Regions from separate parts of the Homo sapiens genome. Here all the other regions are linked to region 3. The links come from fine-mapping of genetic effects on gene expression. A gene starts in region 3. Each other region holds a variant in brackets. All regions are shown on one strand. Distances are from middle to middle. Region 1 overlaps ADGRB3 (adhesion G protein-coupled receptor B3). Region 2 overlaps ADGRB3 (adhesion G protein-coupled receptor B3). Region 3 holds the start of ADGRB3-DT (ADGRB3 divergent transcript). Region 4 has its middle 23 kb from the start of ADGRB3-DT.

Region 1 (5,000 bases), 110 kb before region 3:
CCATGTCACAAGTCACAATGGGATGAATTCTATTAAGATATGAGAAACAGGATTCTAATTATGATGTAGTATCATGTATTTCAAACAAATTCCAGTTTATTTGATTATATAAAAATTATAAACATTTTTATAGTGAGATACTTCCTAAACATAGTTATAGAAAGGGCTCTTGTGAATCAATAAGAAGAAAATAATAACTTAAAAAGGGATAAGTAAATTAAGGATACAAACAAGAGGTAGTCAGAAAACATACAAATCACCTATGAACATAAGAAAAGCTTCTCACCTCACTAGGAATTGAAGAAAGAAAAATTAAAATAGTAATGTGATATATTAAAAATTACATTAGTAAACATTTTAAAATTTTTAGATAAATTATTTAAATTTATATTAGGCAACGTTGGCAAGAGTATACCAGAAAGGATATTTTCAAGCTCTATGGAGGCTAATTTGGCAGCACTAACATTTAAAAATGGGAAAAAATGTAAATGTTCATATCTGTGATGCAGAATTCTACTCATAGAAATACATCCATGAGAAAATTTTTACAGTTGTTTACTGTAGCAATTTTGCAATAAATATGCCCATCAATAAAATAATAGGAAACAGTGTCTGGCAAATACTATGGTTTCAATAATTGTAAAGTTATCATCATCAACAGTATCATTATTACAAATCGCAATAAGGAGACATGGAAGGAAAGCTGTGTTATATTGTGAAGTGGAAAAGGTCAGCTACAGAACAAAATAAATGATAAGCTCACATCAAAGGGAAAGCCATAACTAAATATGTGTGTGGGGGGATATATACACATATATGTACATTCTAAATTCATTTCTAAATATACAAATATACATATTAATATACAATATAAATAAGAAAATACATTTATTTCAAAATAAATAAGATTACATATATGACATATATATATAATTCATGAAGATCAGAAGGGAGAACAGAATATCTACTGAGAATATTTTTTAATTCAGGTAAAAAACACATAACAAACTTTACTAATTATTTTTAAATGTTACATTCACATTGTTGGGAAACAGATGTTCATAACTTTTTCATCTTGCAAATCTGAAACTCTATACTCATTAAACAACTCCTCTCTTCCCTATTTCCCCATTCCCTGGTAACCACCATTGTTTCTGTTGCTATAAATTTGACTACTTTGGATACCTCATATAAGTGGAATCATACAATATATTTTTGTGACTGGCTTATTTCACTTAGCATAATGTCCTCAGGCTTCATCCATGTTGTTGCTTATGACAGAATTTACTTCATTTTTAAGGCTGAAAAATATTCCATTGTATGTATACACCACAATTTGTTTATTCTTCTGTCAATGGTCAATGGGCATTTAGGTTGCTTCTACCTCTTGGCTACAGTGAATAGTGCTGCTGTGAACATGGATGTGCAAATATCTCCTCAGAACTCTGCTTTCAATTATTCTGGTAGTGTATCCAAAAGTGGGATTGCTGGAGCATAGTGATTTTTAGATAGTGTAACCACTCACCCACAGGCTATAGGTAATAGGAGACCTGGGGCACTTTCCATCTTTTTTATTGTATTTGAGGCCTATTCCTGCTTTGTTACAAAATTGCTTTACTTAGATTTTCAGATTGGGTTCTTTTTATATTTCTCTTTGTTTATTCCTATTTTTTAAAATTATACTTCAAGTTCTGGGGTACATGTGCAGAACGTGTAGTTTTGTTACATAGGTATACACGTGCCATGGTGGTTTGCTGCACTCATCAACCCACAACCTACATTAGGCATTTCTCCTAATGTTATCCCTTCCCTAACCCCATATCCCCCAACAGGCCCTGGTGTGTGATGTTCACCTTCCTGTGTCCATGTGTTCTCATTGTTCAACTCCCACTTATGAGTGAGAACATGTGGTGTTTGGTTTTCTGTTTTTGTGATAGTTTGCTGAGAATGATGGTTTCCAGCTTCATCCATGTCTCTGCAAAGGACATGAACTCATCATTTTTTATGGCTGCATAGTATTCCACGGTGTATGTGTGCCACATTTTCTTTACCCA[G/A]TCTATCAATGATGGGCTTTTGGTCTGGTTCCAAGTCTTTGCTATTGTAAATAGTGCTGCAATAAACATATGTATACATGTGTCTTCATAGTAGAATGATTTATAATCCTTTGGTTATATATCCAGTAATGGGATTGCTGGGTCAAATGGGATTTCTAGTTCTAGATCCTTGAGGAATTGCCACACTGTCTTCCACAATGGTTGAACTAATTTACACTCCCATCAACAGTGTAAAGCATTCCTATTTCTTCACATCCTCTCTGTTTTTTATTTGATATATTTATTCATTAAAAAAAGTTCTGTTTTTGTATTATAAATGCAATTAGTAAAATAGAAGCCTTCAAGATAAAATAAAATGTGTGTTTTCTTCTTTTCCTTCATTCTTAGCTCTATTCTTCCCCATCTCTTTCCAACACTACTTGTCAAATTTCACTCATGTACAAACCTTTTACCCATGAAAACAACCTGTCATTTTTCCATGAGTGTATGATACTCTACAAATAAAATATATATACATATATACATATATTGTGTTTTAAATTTTAATAGACTCCAGATTGTTTCACAAAAAAAGGAGGAGGGCTCTAACCATTCTCACTTCCACCAGCAGTTTCTAAGCAGTCCTCTGTTCCCTACACATTAGCGCTATGATTCTTAATTTCTGTTATTTAATTAACATAAATTACAAAATTAACAATATAACAGAATTAACAGTTTCTGCAAAACTGCTACAATTCTGTTATTTAGTTCTCTTAATTTCTCAACAGAAATTTACTTGTTGGTGTAAAATTAAGTTTCATTTTAATTTGCATTTTTCTGGCAAGTTCTGAGTGTCAGTTTTATTTCTCATATTTTGGGGAATTTCTATTTCCTTTTTAGTGAATTTCCTTATCTCTTTTCAGAATGTCTATGTCTAGTGTAACCCAACAACTTTACCAGAGCTGACTTAAGAAGATACAAACATGCATATATACACTCACACAATTAATAGTGAAGGAAAGTTCAGCCTCAAAAAATAGAACACATGTCTAAGAAAACATGGGTTATCAAACTATTTGGAAAGTCAGGAAACTTCCCGAACAGAAAAAAAAAATGGAGCACTTAAACATTTTCAAATCTACCACTAACAAGAATTTCTGGATATACACACACACACAAAAAAAAAAACAAGTAGAAGATTCAGATGTCTCAACTTAGGAAATCAGAAGATATATTGAAGGTGAGCACAGTCATTGCTGAGATCTTAATCAGTAGCCTGAATGATCCAGAAGAGAAGGAAAACATGAGAGAAAAGATGAGACTTGGCAGATATATTCAGGTGACCTCATACCCAAGTAATAGGAATAACAATAAAAGAAGGAACAGAGAAAGAATCTATAATTAAATATTTAATTGAAGCAAATTTCTGAGCTAAAGAAATGTGATTCTATAGACTGAAAGAGCTCACGAAATCCAGCCTAGATATATCAGAAAACGTATACGCATGCCTAGTCATATCTGGTAAACTGAGCTGTAAGAATAAACACAAGTACTATAGAACTCCAAACAGGGGTGAAAAAATAGTTGCTTAAAAAGATACAAGAAATACATCTTTATTACATAAAATTTAGGAAAAAATAGAAAATTATAAAAAATATATTAAAATTACATGTATCCCACTATATAAAATATTAATAGATGTTTTAATGTTCACACCATTTAGTTTATTTTCCTTTTTGAGGAAAAACAATATCTAGAAGTTTACGTGGCTACTTTATTATCACATTATTTCTTAAGACTTCAATTAATATTTTAGGATGATTTAACATTTAGTGATTCCCTGCTTAGTGCCAAATACTGTGGTGAAATATTCACCTCTCCTTTATTCTAACTTAACCTTCACAGAAAATCTATGTGGTAGGCATTTATTATTCTCTGTTTATTGAGAGTAAGTGACTTCTTTGGGTGGTGCAGATGTGGGAAGCAGAGGAGTCAGGTTTCAATTTCTAATCCAAATTTTAAACCTGTCCTTTCAACTATAACAACTCACTTTTCAAAGAATCAGCCTTATTCCTGAGAATGATTAATATAGATAGTGCTTTTATTTTTCTTTTTCCCCTCTGTCAGAGTCAAGACCCAGAGAAAGAAAAAAAAAACTATAAGAGTTCCTTTAAAATGTGTATGACCTGTCATAGAAAGGATTAAATTTCCATTCATATATTTATGTTGAGACATAATATATAAACAGTGTGCTTAATGAGAACTGGAAGAATTACAATATATGCTGAATTTGAAACTAGTTTACATCATGAAGAAGCCACTCATTAGCAATGACTTGTGATAAGACTGGGGAGAAAACACCACAAGCAATTTATCTCCTAGGATTTCTTCAGAAGTCAGTGGCAAAGCAATAATAGTCAGTGAATGACATCACAATTTTAACTTATTTCAGGGAAAGTGTTTCCATGTAGTTTTCTTCATATTTTAAGCTAAATTCTTCAAACAAAAGATATATGAACATTCAGTTCTTTGCATTTTTAACACAGAAACTTGTGTTCAAAGTTTTTATGAATTTTCCCATGTGGTCCTTCCTACTTAAACAACATGTGAACTCGTGAATGATAATGAATTTGCATATTTAGCTAAAACGTTATAAGAAGAAGAATGCAAAAAGGAATGCTGAAAAGAATTTTTAAAGAACATTTCATCAGAAGCAAAAATGTTTAGGTTGTAAAAAACTGATGACAATAATTCAACCTGTCACCTTAATCAGCCAGTTTGATATTAGATTACTCTTCTATACTTATGATAGAAAAGGTAACAAACAGTGGTTAAGAAGGCCAGGGCAGGCACAGTGCTCAAGCCTGTAGTCTCAGAACTTTGCGAGGGTGAGGTGGGAGGATCACTTGAGCTCAGGAGTTTAAGACCAGCGTGGGCAATACAGTGAAACCCTGCCTCTGCAAAAAC
Region 2 (5,000 bases), 32 kb before region 3:
AATTACCAAAGGAAAAAGAACTTGTGCTGATTATAGCAGATATGATGGATTGGAGCTCACTGTCTATTATAGCTTCCTAATATGAATTCCTGTGCTGTCAATTTTGAAGGGCTAAAATCTACATTTTGCAGACTTCCCTGTCGGTAGGGTTCCGGATGTGATTTAGTTTCAGCTTATTAGACACTGTTATACAAGATTTGAAAGAGAGATGTTTTTTCTGCCATAAAGATGGCCATGAAAGCATTTTGTCCTTTGGGGGATCATTCCACTATTGATGCTTATGAAAAGATTTAGCATGAGGCTTCAGTTTTTTGGCTCTAGCAGCTGCTACAGTTTGGAACCAATATTCTACATGGTAACTTCCTGTTCTCTAACTTGCAGGAAAGGGGATTATCATCAGTTAGCTTATACTACATGGTACTTAGTAGCTTAAACAATCAACATTTATAGTTTCACAAGGTTATGTGGCTTGGCTCGGTGGTTCTGATCCCCAGGATGTTCTGCTAGGGCTGGATGGTCATATATGTAGGTCCGAGGCTGGTGTGGCTGGAATTGTTCAGTGTAGCTGGGATTGTTCTAAATGTGGGGCCTCTCTCCTGTGGTCTCTTATTTTCCAGAACACTAGCCCTAGTCGCAGACATTTTTCAGTGTACCAGTGGCCAAAGTATATCACATGATATAGTTAATTGAAAACATGGCAAGAAAATTTTACAGCTCTGTTTCACTGACTCTTGAATCTGGGCTGGCCTTGTTATAATAGTTATTTTGACAAATAGAATATGGCAAAAATAACAACATGCAGCTTGGGATCCTAGGTATAAAAAAACCTTGGAGTCTCAGAAATTTCTGTTTTCCTGGAAGAAAGTTAGTTATGAAATTTTGTTCTTATGAATGAACTATTTATTATACTGATGTAAATATTTATCTGAAACACATATTATTCTAAAAATTGTTTGACTTTCTCAGGTTCTACGGATATAAATTCAGACTGGAATCATTCCTAAAATTTCTTTCAAGATTATAATATTAGGTTAAAGAGAAGACACAGAACTATAGACACTAAGCAGGGGAAGACCTATGAATTAGCATTTTAGCATGCACATCCAGGTTTAGTAGAACTGTGAAACCACCAGGTAGCTTTGATGGTTTTGCTTAAATCTATAACATTAAATTTCTAGCTGAATTGCACTATGAACAAATAATCACTTGTAAATCTTACAAGTTCCTTCCTTTTAAGTAATGGGAGTGTTTCTAATCATTCTACAATTATGATTATAAGTTGAACTTAGCCAATGATACCAGTTTGATCTTTATATTTTATAAAAGTTACATTACATTTTCCCCTAAAGTTTAAAAAAGTACCAGCTCTATGTTCTATATATAATATAATTCTATATATTCTGGCATGGTTTATAATGCAGTTTGACTATACAGTAATCCATTACAACTACTGAATGACAACTACAATTTTCCAAGTAGTATTATTAATACTAAGAATAGTGGGTCAACTTCATATTTGTAGAGAACTAAAAATAACCACATTAATTTGGATATGATACTTTTTTTCAGAGAGTACAAAACACTTTCCTTTAAATTATCCCATTATCTCAATCATTGGCCACTAAAATTCCATGTATTTCTTATCAAGGTCATTTATCATTTCTTTTTTTAGGGTAAGTCATCCAACTACATTTATTAAGTTCAAAATAAGTTCTAGTTATGACATTAATAAGTTTTCAAAAATTATTCTAAGAAGAAATAAAAATAGTTAATGACAAAATTAGACGATAAGGTAGAATTTTAATTTGCTACTTTATTTATAATTCTTAATTTCAGAGAAATTAAGAATAAAATTTTTCTCAAAATATCTTGATAGACTTTACAATGAGCATTTACAAAAACCACAATGTTATTCTCTGGGACCTATGACTAACTTGCGTGTCAACAGAACAGAAGAAAGCATTTCTTCTGAGGGGACTAGGACAATTACAGGTATCCATCAAAAAGTGTAATGATAGGGACAAGTGGATTGAAAAAGGACCCATTTGTTCAACTCTCTTCTAAATGGGAACAGTCACATGAATAGACAACTTTAATGGTGGAAGAGAACATAGAGATATAGGTCAAGAGCCAAAATCTCAAATTCCTTCCGTGGTCACACAACTAGCATAAATGTATGAAGTGGCTACACATGAGCTAATTCTGAGTGGCAGAGACTGAAGGAACTAGTGACACCATGCCCTGACTGAAAGCATTTAAGTTTCAAACATGCCTTAAACACTGAGCTAATACATCAAAATGTTTCTTCAGGTAGACTCAGGTCTGCTAGTTTGTGATTCGAGATCTTGTCTATGAGATATTTATTAATGAAGAACATGACACTCAAAGATAGGAAGTGTCTCGCCTAAGGTCAGAGGTAAATAAATCCCATGAATATATTCCAAATGGAATGCACACCAAAATAGTTAAATGTCACTATATAAAACCAAATATTATGTTTATTTATCATTTGATGTTAGATAAACTTCTAAGAGATCATACTGCACTGCTAATCTTGGGATTACAAAATTTAGACACTAATATAGGATGTTTATGTGATATACATTTATATTACTATAGTATTTAACATAAGAGCTCTGTACATGAATACAAAGGTGTTAACTTATAATCCAAATCATAAGTATAAATTATTGGAAATATTTTATTTCCCTAATTAGTATATTCAGAATAAAGTATTTATAGTTATTAATTTGAAGAATTTAAAGAGATATCCAAGCAAAAACATATTTAATATTAGAAAAATGAAGCCCCAATTAGCAATGATGATGTTCATGATAGTTTAACATTATCGTGTAACTATCATGGTATGTGGTACTTGTCTAAACACTTTGCATATGTTGGTCAGCTCCATTAAACCCCAACAGAGCTCTGTGCAATAGGCACTGTTATTGTTGTTGTTGTTTTCCTCCAGAGATATTCAAGTTATACCAAAATACCTAAGGTCC[G/A]ATAATGTTAATTTAGATAAAATTATTTTGAGGAATATATTTTGGACTCCAATTAAATACTTCAAAGAATTAGCATCTTTTTTATCTTTTCTTCCAACTCTTGAAACCCAATTGGCACAACAAAACAAATATAAAGAGAAAGAAAAACTATCCATTTACAGCAAAGAAATGAAAATACCATGACCCCAAAACACAAACTACAGAACCTACAAAATACCAAGACTATACTTTCAGGGATCATTTCTATAGTTTGTTACTAGAGAAGTTTCTCTGAACGTGTAGAGCACCGAGAACCTACAAAATACCATGAAATGAGAAGTGATGATAAAGAGTGGTCCTTCACTCTTCACCTTTCAAGAAGGACAGCATTCCCTAAAGTATCTTGGCCAGTAAAGAAGGCTGAAGGTGAAGCCTGGTGAAGGTGGGAGGGGAGAGATCTCGTGACTTAAAGAATCGAATCCAATTACATACACAGTACATGAACACCAAAAACTGAGAGATGAGCTCCCACCCAAAGATTGAGTAAGAATGTGTATAAGACTAAACTCTGATGGAAGCTGCTGCAGTCCACTCACTGTCAGCCACACTCTCCTTGTGCTCACTTCCCTCCAAAAGCCCCCTTCACCCTCCCTTATGCAATATTTCAGACAAATATTTGGAGGCAGTAAAGTACAGTGGTGAAGGCTCTGGAGACAGCCTGGGTTCAAATCATCATTCTACCACTGTGAATCCCTGGGCACGCTTAACTCTCTGCACAACTTTCTTATATAGGCCAGAAGAGCATAAAAATAGTAGGATTCAGAGGTATCTATCTTAGTCAGTTTGGGCAGGTGTAACAGAGCACAATAGCCTTGGTGGCTGATAAACAAAGGAAATGTATTTCTCATAGTTCTGGGAGCCAGAAGTCTGAGATCAGGTTGTCAGCATAGTCAGGTTCTGGTGAGGACCCTCTTCCATGTTCTTAGCCATTGACTTCTTTATGACTCACATGGCAGAAAGAGAACTTGCGAGCTCTTTGACCTCTTCTTGTAAGGGCAATAATCTCATTCACGAAAGTTCCATTCTCATGAACTAATTGTGACCCAAAGTCCCCAGCTCCAAATATCATCACATTAGCATTAGGATTTCAACATATGAATTTGAAGGATGGCAAAAACATTCAATCTCTAACAATATTTTATCCTAAATATAATATCAAACACATCTCAAACATTTTCATACTACTAAAAAAAAATCGGTATTTGAGAATGAGGGTACATCAGCTTTCAGTAATGATGTTACCATAAAAAATGTGCTTAAAATTATTTATTACGTTCTAAAAATGTAGGATGCTATGAGAAATAAAAGTAAATTAAGACAAATGAGAACACTTATCATTTTAAAAACGACAAATATCATTCAGCATATTCGACTCATTTTAAAATAATCCTTTTATCCCATGAATGAAATTTCTGAATTCAATTTTGCTGATGGTGACTTTCCTATTGACTCTCATGCTTTTAGTGAAAATTAAATTGCACAAAAATACCACACTGCAGATGTTTTAGTTGGGCTACTTGTAATTTATAGATAATGTAACTCTAAAGATCACAATGTGTAGCACGCTAAAATACTTGAATCATATTTGACTTTCACATATTTAATAACGAAGTTTCTAGATGAAGAAGAAACAGTAGAAAGCCAAATGCTCTCTTCGGCTTTTCATATTTAAGTCATGATGAAATCAAGGCAACTTGCTCATTGATAGTTGTAGAATTTCTGCCACTTTAAAATTATTTCTATTCAAAGCTTCAAAAGTTTCTATTCATGGCTCCTAAGGAATGAAGGCAAAAATTGAAGCAGGCGATTCTTTAAAGCAAAATATTTCTTTCATATTAACCCTGAAGTTCTACAATGCATTGCCTTCTATGGGCAAAACACACATGGATAGTAATGGCAGATCTAAGCAAATATACACAATTTAAAAAGGTACAAAATTGGTTGCATAAATTCAAA
Region 3 (6,334 bases):
AACTCTAAATCTCTATATAGCAGCAGTTTAAAATAACATCAGAACTGCTGGGACCATCAAAACAGTGTTCTCTGTTTCAAGCAAATAGCTCAATGAATAATGCATTTTCTTCATGAGAAAATAAAGCCAATGAGCATTTAAAGGTTAAAAAAAAACAGAGAAAGTTGTAAGAAATTCTGGAAATAATTTCCTTTTTTTTTTTTTTTTTTTGGTGTTGCACTTTGCAGGCAATGCAGGTCTGCGCAGTGTTCTTCAGGATAGAGTGTAGGCGTTGAGAGCCAATGTGACAATAAGTGTCTAAATTAGGAATTCCATCCATGAAAGGGGACTTCATTTTATAATCAGGAACTCAAAAAGAGGTCGTATGTCTTTTCCTAATGAAATTGGTACTTTTGCTTTCATTTATTTGACAGTGCATGTCTGCAATGCCGTGCTCATCAATGATCAGAGAGTGAGGAAATAGCTCTGAATTCACTTTAATGCCTGCTCAAGAGAGCGCACTCAATATAATGCTCTTTATTTTTAATCAGTCTGGAGTACACAGTCTTATTTTGTTCTAAATAATAAAAAATAAATCATTACCCTCACCCCCCTTTGGACTGCAGGGCCCGTTCAAAAAGCCGTGTTTCCCTCTTAAAGAAGGGGTGGGGGCGGGGGCAAAGGCTGGCCACGGAGGTGTCAAGGATGTTTTATTTATTTATTTATTTATTTATTTATTTATTTATCTCTTGCTGAGAAGCAAACCAGCATTGAGTTTAGCTATTCTCAAAACTGATTTTCTGGGTGACACTTTAGTTTAGTCGAACATAGACGGCGCCATCACTCCACAGATTTTTCCCCCCAATAGAAGACCCACTGCCTTCTCTTAACTTCCTTTTAACCTAAAATTTTCCCCTCATAAAATTACCCCAATCACACAAAACTGCCAGATTTTCTAGGTCTCTCCGCTTATTCCTTCTGACCCAGCACATCTCTTGAAAACCAGACTTCTCTAACTTTTCAACTGCGGCGTTTAAGTAAATGCAGACAGTCGGATCTGCTCACAGCCTCCCCATCCGCCAGCAACAGCCTTTCCTTTCATTTTCCTCCCTTCTCAAACATTAAGCCCAAAGCTCCACGGTGGCGACCCCCGGCAGAGAAAAGGTGACCCCTGGACCCCCTTCCTTACCTTCCACTCCGAAAGCTCAGGGAGGCTCTTGCTCTAAGACACCAGCACAGGCACGCGTCCCAGCAACAGTGACGGAGAGACTCCCCTTCGGTCCCAATCACCGTTGCCCATTTTCCCCGGCTCAGCTTCCAAAATCAGGATTTATTTTTAAAAATGCATACATACGAAAAGCAAAAGGTGGGGGGTGGGAACCAAAGGGGGGTCGATGAGAGAGAGGAAAAAAAAGCCAGCAGGAGCCCAGAACCTTGCGCCGTATCCAACTGAATCCAACCTCCAAACCGAGGGGGGCTAAAGGGAGGGAGAAGCCCCCCCAAGGGAGACTCTAAGGAACCCCCCAAAATGTAAGTGGCTTAATAGCAAAGATTTGTTTCATAAAAGCTACCCCCAACAAACCAAGAAGCAAAGAAAGCGCTGAGACGAGAAGTGACCGGCGGCGGCGGCGGCTGCTATGGCAGATTTGTTGGGGCGGTGGGTTTATTACAGGAGTATTCGTGGTCGGATCGGAAGGCTCAAGCTTATGCTTTTTCCTCTTTCCGCTTTCCTCCCTCCTCCTCCTCCCCCCTGCAGGTACTGATGGACGGACGGCGACTAAGGAGAGCGGGGAAAAAAATCCTTGGCTGGTGATGTCGGAAAGCTGTTTGAATGCCCAGCGAGGAGGGAGGCGCGAGAGGGAGCGAGATAGTAAAGCTCTGTCTCGGGTGTGCGCGCCGGCGCGCAGTGCTCGCTCTCCCTTGGGCGCGCGCGCGGGGGGTGCGCGTGTCCCGGGAGCGCGTCCGCGCGGCGGCCTCCCGCGTGCTCGTGTGCGCGCGCGTCCCGGGTGCCGCGCGCCCTTCTTATGCACAGCTGCGGTGCGCCCCGCCGCCCGCCAGAGGCTCGGCTCGCGCGGCGCGGCCGCTGCGACTTCCTGGAGTTCTGCCTGCCGGGGGCGCGGGCGGGTGTGTGAGAGAGAAGGCGAAGGGAGCCGCGGGGTGGGAGAGGAGGGAGTCCCGGCGGGAGGGCGGGGGAGAGGCTGGCGGGAGGGGGGCTCCACGGAGCTCCAGCCAGGGCCGCGGTTCGCCTGCACGTCACGGCTACTCAAACCCAAGCACGTCCCGAAAGCGGTATTTTCTGCGTCTGGGAGGTTTTTGCATCCTCAGTTCCCACCGCTGGGGCTGGCGGCGACCAACTGTAAGAGAAACTCACTGGGAGGCGAGGCAGGGGGGTGCGGAGGATGGGAAGGCGACTCTGAAGGGTGGGAAGTGAATGCTGGACTTGATCGTCTTTCTCTTTCTTTCAGCGCAGACCTGTCGCAGCCAGAGAGCTGTCATTTCAGTACCGGGATTCAGAATTGATCCAGTCCGCAGCGGAGGGGGCACATCCCAGCTACCGAGCTGCTGAGTGTCTCTGGCTGGAACAATAGTATTTTTTTCTCTGCGAGGCTGCAATTAACATCTTATTTGTTCTGGCTCCATACAGGCTTTGTCAGGATCGCGGTGCGGCGACCGACGTTGGGCTCTTGCATTGCTTTGTGCTTGGCAATGGAATCATGGTTTCGGGGTCTAAACTTTTGTTTCGTTTTGTAGTCTTAATGTATCTGATTCTTTTTCAAGTTTCCCTAGTAACAGGTTTGGGGACGGGGTGGGAAGAAGCGAGAAAAGGGGTGAAGAGAAAAAACCAGATTATATAGAAAGGAAAAAGGGAAAAGGGATGTTTCCCCACCTTTTAATCTAACTATCTATCTGTCTGTCTATCTATCATCATAGATAGTCATTTTGCCTCCTGGACAGTTGGCTGACGAAGTGTCTGATAAACCAGCTTCAGATACATGCTACAAAAGGTCATTCGCCTCCTGATTATGTTTCTACTTGTAAACGCAGTTGGTGGTTTGCAAAACAAGTGCTAAAATAGTGCAGTGATGTGGTGGGAGGAAACCATAATGGGTAATTCATATAAAGTGCTGGAATCTTCGTAAGGGTGAGTTTCTCGAGCGGCAGGTGAAGTTGAATAAAGCAATTTTCCATCATTTGTTCCCCTCACTCTTGCATTTTTTTCCTCCGCTTGTTTCTCTCCCCTGGGGCGATTATGGATAGCCAAGAACACCATTTTAAAAGAGATTGATAGTGAAAACAGGAAGTTTATGGTCTGTTATCCACTGGAGTTGTTTGAAATATTAAAATTGGTCCTTTACTTCTTAATGCATATTAATAGAGTGACCCTCTTCAAGGCTTTCCCGTCTTAAACGAATGCCTGGGATAAACACTGTAAGGGGAAACAGTTAATAATTCCCCAGCAGGCTTTAACTATTTTCCCAGTAACAAATCACCGGCAAGAGAGCAGCCTGGGTGGCATTTTGGTTTTGTGTCATTTTGGTTCTTTACAATATTTTTTATTCATTTAAGGAAATGTTAAAAGGAAATAATTAGGGTTTATGTCCAGAACAAATTTTGAAACACCGTTTAAGCAACACATTTTCTTTTAAAAACAAAGAACATTGAGCAACACAAAGGAGAAAAACATTTTATTTATTTCAACTTCCCTAGAGATCGTAATTATGATTTTCGCAAGGCAATTTGGTCAGTTCTGTTACTTTATCCAGAGGAAAAAAAAGCATGACAGATGTGGAATAAAAACGGAGGAAAAAATGCTTTGGATGGTTTATACATAAAAAGGAAAGAATGTAATGTGAGGTTCAGTTATACCTCTATTTTGCATCTAGTGATTTCTCATATTATCTTGTAACACTGATTTTGATGTTTCTTAGAAATTCTTAAAGTCATGACACAGTGGCATAAGAATAACAGCTGAAAGGGACAATTTAAAAGCCTAAATCCTAAATGGAAAGGTTCACTTACTCCCAGGATCATTTATATTCAAGTAGAAGTCAGGGCAGGGTCAGAAAAGAAAGCCACCCTTAATAAAGCGCTTCACCCTTCACATTGTTTCTCATAACCTTCATAAATTGCAGGCTACTGAGCTGGCCTGATGATGATCCTTCTGAGATATATTTATAGCAGATGATTTGTGGATGATAACTACGCCAAGCAAGACACTGTCTCCAGTAACCCCAGGCTCGTCTGACTTCCTCAGGGGATTATAATAAAGAATCACAAAAAGAACCCTATATGGACAGTCTGGTCTCTGGACACTAACAACAGCACAATCCAAAGGCAAAGAAAGGAGGAACCACCTTGTTTCATGTCTGCAAGCTGCTCCATATGAAAGCATTGCTGACATGTTGACCCAACAGCAAAAAGAGAGCAGCAGTTTACACACCCTCAGCTCTCTGTCCTTTCCTTTCTATTGATGTTGGTCCACTTTTATGACTGAATACATATTAAAATCACCATTTCAAATTATAATTATCTGCTTTCATTGGTCTCTTTCACAAGTCTATGTCTATATTTATGTTTACATATATAAACACATATACACATATTTTATACATACATATGTATATGTATGCACGCATTATTTGTAAGTACACATACACGTGTGTGTATATATATGTATATGATATGTATATGTGTATTTCAGTTGATACACATATATTTGCTTGGGAAGTTTCACTACATTGCTTTGTATTTCTCTTTTATAAGGTAATGCATTTAATTCCAAAACTACCACATTAATTGTATAAATTGATTATTACATAAGTTTCCTTGATGATTTACAGAAGAACTATTGAGAGGTCAGTGTTAGCACATCAAAATATAGTCTGGTATGGCATTTTAAATTGACCCAGGTATCTAATATTAAAGCCTTTCAAATTTATCTCTCCTGCTATTATTTTATTAAGATTACTTTGGAATGATGAGGTTATAAGTGTGATTTATTTCTGTTTCATCTTTTTGTCTGTATGTGCTAAGTTTAGTCCCTCCACTTTGAGAATAACCCTATAATCCAGGATCATTGCTTAAAATTCAGTATCATTTGCAGAATTCTCATACTCAAATAAGAATGTTTCTAGAATATGTTTACTCAATTTTAGAAAGTATTTTCTCTTTCCTTCTTTCTGTCATAGTTTTTCTGATATTACTGTATTACCACATTCTAAACTCTGTGACTTGTTATTTTCAGTAAGGCTTTAAGAAGCATGGATAGGTTTGTAGGTTATTTCTTGTTAAATATGCCTTAATTTTTTAGTATTTAGTATTAGTATTTAGTTTTTAGTATTTAGTATTTAGTATCTCCCATATATATATATGCACACATATATATATACACATATATATGTACACACATACATATATACACACACATATATATACACACACATACACAAAGCTTTGGAATGTTAATTAAATGATCAAAATATTACAAGATTACATTGTTATGAGAACTTATCCTTAATATTAGCATATTTACTATAAAGTTAAACAACTTCTTCTCCTCTGTCTCCTGTTTATTATCATTATTTTATTATTATTAAAAAAGGAAGTCTCTCAGAAACCAAGCTGTATATCCTCTAGTCTCTATGTAAAAAAACAAATTGGTCATTTTCTACTTGGACATCCCAGAATAGAAAGTACATTGAAGTACTAAAAAATAAAGGGATAGACTTGGGGTTAAGGGAGATGTCATAGAACAGCTATCCTGGGTTAGTTCAAGTGTAGTCCTATTCCATGCTAGGCAAAGTCAAGGTTACAAAAATCCCAGTTGCATCAGGTTTCCATTTTTTATCATTATTTCCCTATACAACGATACAAGTTAAAAAAAAGTCGGTAAATACTTTTGGCCATCAATTTTCAAGATTTCATTGGTGATATTAAGGAAATGCTGTAAGTAGGTAACACATAATGTCATATTTGTGTGCTGTAGAAGTATCTTGGAAAATATGGACTTTAAAACCTCAAAATATGGGTTTGCAATCGAACATACATTCACCCCCAAATTTGACCTTTTTCAGCTAGTTATTTTCTCATATAAAGTTACTATACTTACACCATTATCTTTAATCCCTGAAATTTCAATTATACTAGAAATCAAGATTCTTCATTTTTACTCACGAAACTGACACTAAGTATATACCTCATTAAGGACAAGAAGCTATGAATTCTCTGGACTTCAGTTATCTCACAGAAAAGAGCTTGATTGAATAATGTCTAAGGCTCTTCCTGACATAGTCTAAATAACAGAAGGTGTCTCACAAGAAATGGAAGCAGTGAGAGAAAAATGCAATTAAATCCT
Region 4 (6,334 bases), 22 kb after region 3:
TAGAGATCATTGGAAGACATACGAAATTTTAAATGTTTTAAATTGTTTTATTTTACTAGATAATTAAAAATTCCAAATACAATGTTTTAATAGGAAAGAATATACCTGTTTTCGGAAAAGAGACACTTTAGCATGGGATCTATGGATAGGCTCCAAATAGACTGAAATCTAACTTAGAATTCCATTCCCTTTATTATACCCTATACATTCACCACTGATTTGATAATATTTGTTTAGCATCCATTATGTTCCAAGCATTATTTTAGGTCCTGTGATACAGCAATGAACAGAATAGAAAAGTTCTCAGATCTCTAGATGCATATGCCATGTGGTGCTAAGTGCTATGATTATGAGTAAACCCACGTAGAGGAGTAGAGAGTGACGGAGAAGGTGGGGTCAGCTGTTTTTTACAAGTGGTCAAGAAAGGCCTCTGTGGTCTTTGAGAAGAGACCCAAAGTAGTGAGTGCAGGACAGTTTCTGTGTGACCTTGGCTGACCAGGCTCCCCACCCTTTTTCTTCCTTGAAGTTGGTAGAATAACTGTAGAATATGCTGTGGATGCAACATCCTGAGATAAGGGGAAGTGGCTGGAAGAGCCCAAGCTCTGTTCCTGTACCCCCAGAACAATTTAGCCCAATGCATAAGGTACTCTGGGGTGTAAAACCCAGCGAGGAATGTTTTCAGGGTCTCTCACCTGCAGCACAATGTGAGACACATGCAGAAAAGACTCCATCTGCCCTGGACAGCCTTCCTGAACAGCTGGCCATTAGTCTTAGGCTTTTACTGTCCCCTACTACTTCTCTGTGAGTGAGAAGTTGCTTCACTTAACTTGTTTGTATGAGTGCTGTTCCACTGAACTCACACAAGTGAATTAAAACCAGTCCATGGTATTGGTGAGGTGTTTACAGTCCTCCTCTGGAATTGATACTGGGGCACAGTGAACCTGCTTCACCATAAGGAATTCAATCCGTCTTGTATCTGAAGCCAGAGGTATTTGAAATGGTAGAGATAATAAGTGCCAAGGCATGAGCTAGATAGACATTTGCTTACTGTGTTTTTGGTACAAGAAAGTTTGAACGAAAAGGGGAGTTGATGGAAGATACAGTCAGAGAGAACTATGTGGCCCAACACTGAGCTTCCAAACAAACAAAAAAACTGTCCTTGTCCTCCAGGGCACCACTGTGCTCTGTGCCCTAAAAGCTGCCGTCTAGACTCCTTGAGCTGTTGCAGGCTCTTCTCAGGCCATTGTGTTACATTTTACCACACAAATGAGAGGTTTCTGGGATTTATCAGATAACTCACTATCTTATTTCAATAAACACCATGATAATTAAAATCATTTTATTTTCTTATTCCAAGTCTCTGTTCATGGGTTGACACTTTTGAAACATTTTACTATCTTATTAATAAAGTCAGATGTTTAATGTCATTTTCTCTTAACTATACATTACTTTTTAGGTTTGCCCATACTTTCCTTATATTTACTTGAACATTTTGTTTCTCTTTATAACTATTTCTTTAGTGGACTAATGTGTCCCATTTTTAACTTATTTCCACAAATAAATTATGATGATATATGGTGATACAGGTTTCATATATGTTTAAATCACTTCAGCTTATAAATTAAAGTTTATTTTGGAGACTAAAATTTAGGCATCACTTTCTTCTACAGAATAGTAATGGGTGAATAATTTCTTCATGTTGCATATTTCTTGATTTATGAATGAGATTCTTTAGAGTTGTGAACAGAAATTACATATATATGTATATATATAATTTCACAAGGAATGTTTGTTTTTAAAAAATATGAACAGTTCATAGTTTGAAGAAGAAAATATTCAGAACTAAACAAAATAAGATTTTTGTTTACAATTATTCATATTGTTGCCTATGCATAAATACATGAGAATATATGTACACAGTTGTATCATCCTGTATATATTTTGTAACATACTTTCTTAAGTGGAAAAGAAAATTTAAATGCTTCATTGAAGTGATATATTTTGCCTTTCAACTTGAAAGCAATTGAATAGAAAAGCTGATACTAGAGTATGAAACCATTTATGTAATCCTAAAATTCAAAATTATTTTATATATACAACACAGAAAACAAACATAACAGTTTCAAGATAGGGTTTACCACCAGAAAAGGAGGACAGAAAAAAGGAGAGTGGTGTGAATGTTCTTAAAGCTATCCGTTGAGTGTTATTTTTTGATATAATAATCTTTGAGACTAAATAATAAATAAATAATTGTCCTAAAACATTACTTTTAAAATCTTATTCCCCAATTTAGAAAATTTCAAACTGTAAAATTTAACATCTGTTAAATCTTACTATATATTTCTCACTTCTTTCATGAAAATTAAAACTTTCTACCAATAACATTTAAAAATATATATATTTGGTATTTCTTTAAAAACTTTTTTCTACATCTTCATTTTAATGGCCACATAAAATTCCATCATATGAATGTGCTATAATCTGTTTAAACCTTCCGCTATGTGTGATCATTTTGAATGTTTTCAGTACTTTGGTACTAGTAACCATATTGCAGTGATAAACTTTTTACCCAGTTCTACTGATATTTAAAAATAAGTCCTTTCTGAGTGAAAATGATAAACATGTCTAAGGACTTTCATATATTTATATTGCCAACTTATCAAATGCCATAAATGAGTCTGTGTTAATTTCTACTCTAAATAACAATAAGAGATAGTGATCAATTTAATAAACCATCTACCAAGCAGTAGTTAGTATTTAAATAGTTTTCTATTGATATGAAATTAAGACAAATCATTTCTTAAAATATCATTTAGTGAGGATTAACTTATTTTCATGTGTTTATTAACTATTTACACTTCTTCAATGTAGTACAGTGGTTAAGGGCAAGGCCTTCACAATCAGAGATAAATGAGTTTGAGAACAAGTTCTGATATCATTGGATGTATTCCCCTGGATGAGTTAATTAATCTCTCTAGGTCATTATTTTCTTTTATGCACACAAATTGTATTTTATTGTTTGCTAGGGCTGCAGTAACAAAGGAAAACAAACTAGGTGGCTTACAGACAGAACTTTATCATCTCACAGTTCTGAAGCATACAAATTCAAATCAAGGTGTTGGCAAGGTTGGTTCCTTCTGAGGGTTGTTAGGGAAGGATCTGTATTTTCCTTTCCAAAGTCTCTAGACAATTTCCAATATTTTATTGGGTATGGATAAAAAGTGGATAAATTATTCTTAAAAACAATTTGGTTCATCAAAAGACAATGTTCAGAAAAGGAAAATGCAAACATGGAGAGGAAGAAATTATTCACAATCTGCATGTGAATATTTACTAACAGGTTTAAATGTAACCCATGGAGGATTTTAAATGTTTGTAACTAAAAGGCTAGCCTCAATAATTGCCCAGCTTGAATTTTTATCAACAATTCAGACAAGAAGTTGATTTTAAAAGATAGTTGTAAAAGGTTAAAAATATATCAGCTATGCATATAAGAGCTTTGATATGGACAAAGAAAAAAGATGACCAAGGTCTCATCTTTACTAATGACCTAGTGTCCTGGAATTAGAAGACACTTAGTTTCCTCAATCTTTGATATAGACCAAA[A/G]AGAAAATGGCAAAGGAAATGATTGAAGCCAGAAGACTGGTAAATTAGGAGAGCCAGGTGCTCTGGATTATGCTGCAGGTTCCCATTGGCTACTTTGCACCTCTCCAATCAAGACTGTTTTTTGTTGCCAGAATAAATGTCCTATAACATTATTTTTAGAATCTTATTTCGCAATTTAGAAAACTTCAACTACACAAAATGCGCACTTCTCTGTTATTGTTTCAAGACGTTTCATAATCTTTTTTCACCCTCTCCTTCCAGGCACATTAAGCTTCTCTGGAGTTGGAACTATTTATTTTACCAACCCACAAATGCATCATGATAATTTCTCTCTCTAATTCCCTTTCCAGGTTATTCCCTAGCCATAAATTAAATTGGGTTCAATAAATATATTCACTGAACTCATCTTTTATATAAAACACTGTGAGAGACACTAAAATGAATCAAAACACTGCCCTCACTGTTGCACATAGTGTCTTTTACATGCCAGCTGCTGAGAAGATACACGAGGTAAAGAATGAAGAAATGAACAGTTATTATAACTTTCTGTCTTACACCTTGCCCCTTCATTTTTGAAAAAAGTAAAAATATCAAGATTCTTTTATTCTATGAAGGCTTTCTTAACTACTCCAATTCTTTATAATTTATTTATGTTAGAGCTCTTTCAGTCTGTACTCCTTGCTATTAAACTGGCGATCCAAGGGCCCATAGTACATTATGCAGACTCTCAGGCTCCACTGCTAACCCACCAAATCAGAATCTGCCTTTTAATAGAATCTCCAGTGAGATACACACACACACACACACACACACACACACACACACACACATATATCCAGTGACATGCATATGTGTGTATATATATATAAAAGCACTTGTCATACCATAGAATTTGCCATTTTTTGGTATATAATTCTGAATTATTGTGATTTGTCATTAAGCCCCAGAATCCCCTTGTGGCCCTAAATAAATGCTTGCTTATTGATCACATTGAGAAAATGACAGAACTGTAATAATTCACAAACACAACATAAAATACTTAGTAGTGGTGAGAAATGTAGTCCTATAACTCCACCACAATAACCAAAAGAAATTAATAATAATACAGTAAGATATAGTTTATTTTGAGAAAAAATTAAATTTCCTAATAATGTTCTTCATAACTTTTATAAAACATTCAGACTTCAGTGATATATAAAGCATAGAATTTAGGTGTAGTCTCCTTTTATCTGGAAGAGCCACTCCCTTCCATTTATGCCTTTCATGATGTTGGTGTTGATATTTTTCAAAAATTTCAGACCATTTGTCTGATACTTGAATTTGTCTGAATACGACCTGTATTAGGCTTCTCTAGAGGGAAAGAACTAATAGGATATAAAGGAATTTATTAAGTATTATTAATTCAAACGATCACAAATTCCCACAATAGGCTGTCTACAAGCTAAGGAGCAAGGAAGCCAGTTCGAGTCCCAAAGCTGAGGAACTTGGAGACTGATGTTCAAGGGCAGGAAGCATCCAGCACAGGAGAAAGATGTAGGCTGGGAGGCTAAGCCAGTCTAGCCTTTTCACATTTTTTTTTTTTTTTTGCCTGCTTTATATCCTAGCCTCACTGGCAGCTGATTAGATGGTTCCCGTGCAGATTTAAGGATGGGTCAGCCTCCCCCAGCCCACTGACTAAAATGTTAATCACCTTTGACAGTACCCTCACAGACACAGTCAGGATCAATACTTTGCATCCTTCAATCCAATCAAGTTGACACTCAGTATTAACCATTACAAGTCTGCCTCTTGTCAACTTGAACCCATGCACATCTCCAGAGATCATACATCACCTTCAAATAAAGACAATAATGTCATAATTACATCAAACTTAATACAACTCTCCTTTGTACAACCAGAAATGCACCAATCCCCAATCAAATGCTATTCCATAAAGTTAACAATACTTAAGTGCTGAAGTGAAATAAATAAATCTTATGTCACATGATAAAGGAAGAAGAAAATAAAATGAAGCTGTTTTAAGTACAAGTGTATACATGCACAAACATGTTTTTAACAAAAGAAGGAGGAAATACTCATGACATTTATAATCCTCGTTTCTGCAGCTGGTCACGTGGTCATAGCTGGTATTGATTACTACCTTCTACCACCTGTTCTGTATTCCCTTTGCCTTTAGCAAGCAGGTTGTGGTTTTTTTTTCCTGGTGGAGTGACCCAAATCTTCATTCCTGAAGGGTCTGGGTCATTTGTAGCCCTGCCTAGATTGGGCTGTTGTAGTTTCCCATTGACCTTAATCACAGGGCATGGTAATACTAAGAGCAACCCTAAGGGATCTCCTGTATTCCATGAGTACTCTTCCTTACCTCCACTGTGGAGTAGTAGACTGATTTCATCTTGATAGCCTGGGTCAATCACCGCAGCCAACACTGTAATTCCTTTCTTAGCCTGTTGACTTAAAGGTAGAAGGAGCCCAAAGTGTCCAGGTGGCAATCTTAACTTCCAGTTTAATGGAATGATTGTTGTGTCTCCTGGTAGCAGCCTTCCTCCATCTGATACTACAACCTCTAGGCCAGTAGAACATAATTTCATGGAAACAGGAAGCAAAAATTTGCTAGTGGATCACTAGGGGTGATCATGAATGGTGCCACTTCCACTTTCATCCCTTGATTCCTGGACCTGTGAATCCTGGCTATGGGAGATACAGTATCATATATTGGAGGTTGATTCAG

The links. PIP is the estimated chance that this variant, and not a neighbour inherited with it, causes the effect.
Region 1: its variant is fine-mapped to the expression of ADGRB3-DT in whole blood (INTERVAL, PIP above 0.99).
Region 2: its variant is fine-mapped to the expression of ADGRB3-DT in esophagus muscle (GTEx, PIP 0.99).
Region 4: its variant is fine-mapped to the expression of ADGRB3-DT in whole blood (TOPMed, PIP 0.98).

Annotation. Positions count from the first base shown.
Region 1 is chr6:68,741,563-68,746,562 of GRCh38, reverse strand. The region is part of intron 3 of ADGRB3 (adhesion G protein-coupled receptor B3); the gene reads right to left. Among named protein-coding and RNA genes, the nearest start is that of ADGRB3, 110 kb to the right of the region's middle. The variant G/A (reference allele first, on the strand shown) is at 2,055.
Region 2 is chr6:68,663,469-68,668,468 of GRCh38, reverse strand. All of the region lies in intron 3 of ADGRB3 (adhesion G protein-coupled receptor B3), which reads right to left. It also overlaps the pseudogene LOC124901511. Among named protein-coding and RNA genes, the nearest start is that of ADGRB3, 31 kb to the right of the region's middle. The variant G/A (reference allele first, on the strand shown) is at 3,006.
Region 3 is chr6:68,630,835-68,637,168 of GRCh38, reverse strand. It overlaps ADGRB3-DT (ADGRB3 divergent transcript), which reads left to right and starts at 2,845. Exons shown (of 2, transcript NR_125872.1): 1 at 2,845-2,984; 2 at 4,113-4,506. It overlaps ADGRB3 (adhesion G protein-coupled receptor B3), which reads right to left and starts at 1,887. Exons shown (of 32, transcript NM_001704.3): 1 at 1,169-1,887. It overlaps LOC127898563, which reads right to left and starts at 1,279. Exons shown (of 1, transcript NM_001414704.1): 1 at 1,202-1,279. The coding sequence starts at 1,279. The coding sequence ends at 1,202. RefSeq lists a silencer at 1,939-2,148.
Region 4 is chr6:68,608,342-68,614,675 of GRCh38, reverse strand. No RefSeq gene overlaps it. Among named protein-coding and RNA genes, the nearest start is that of ADGRB3-DT, 23 kb to the left of the region's middle. The variant A/G (reference allele first, on the strand shown) is at 3,607.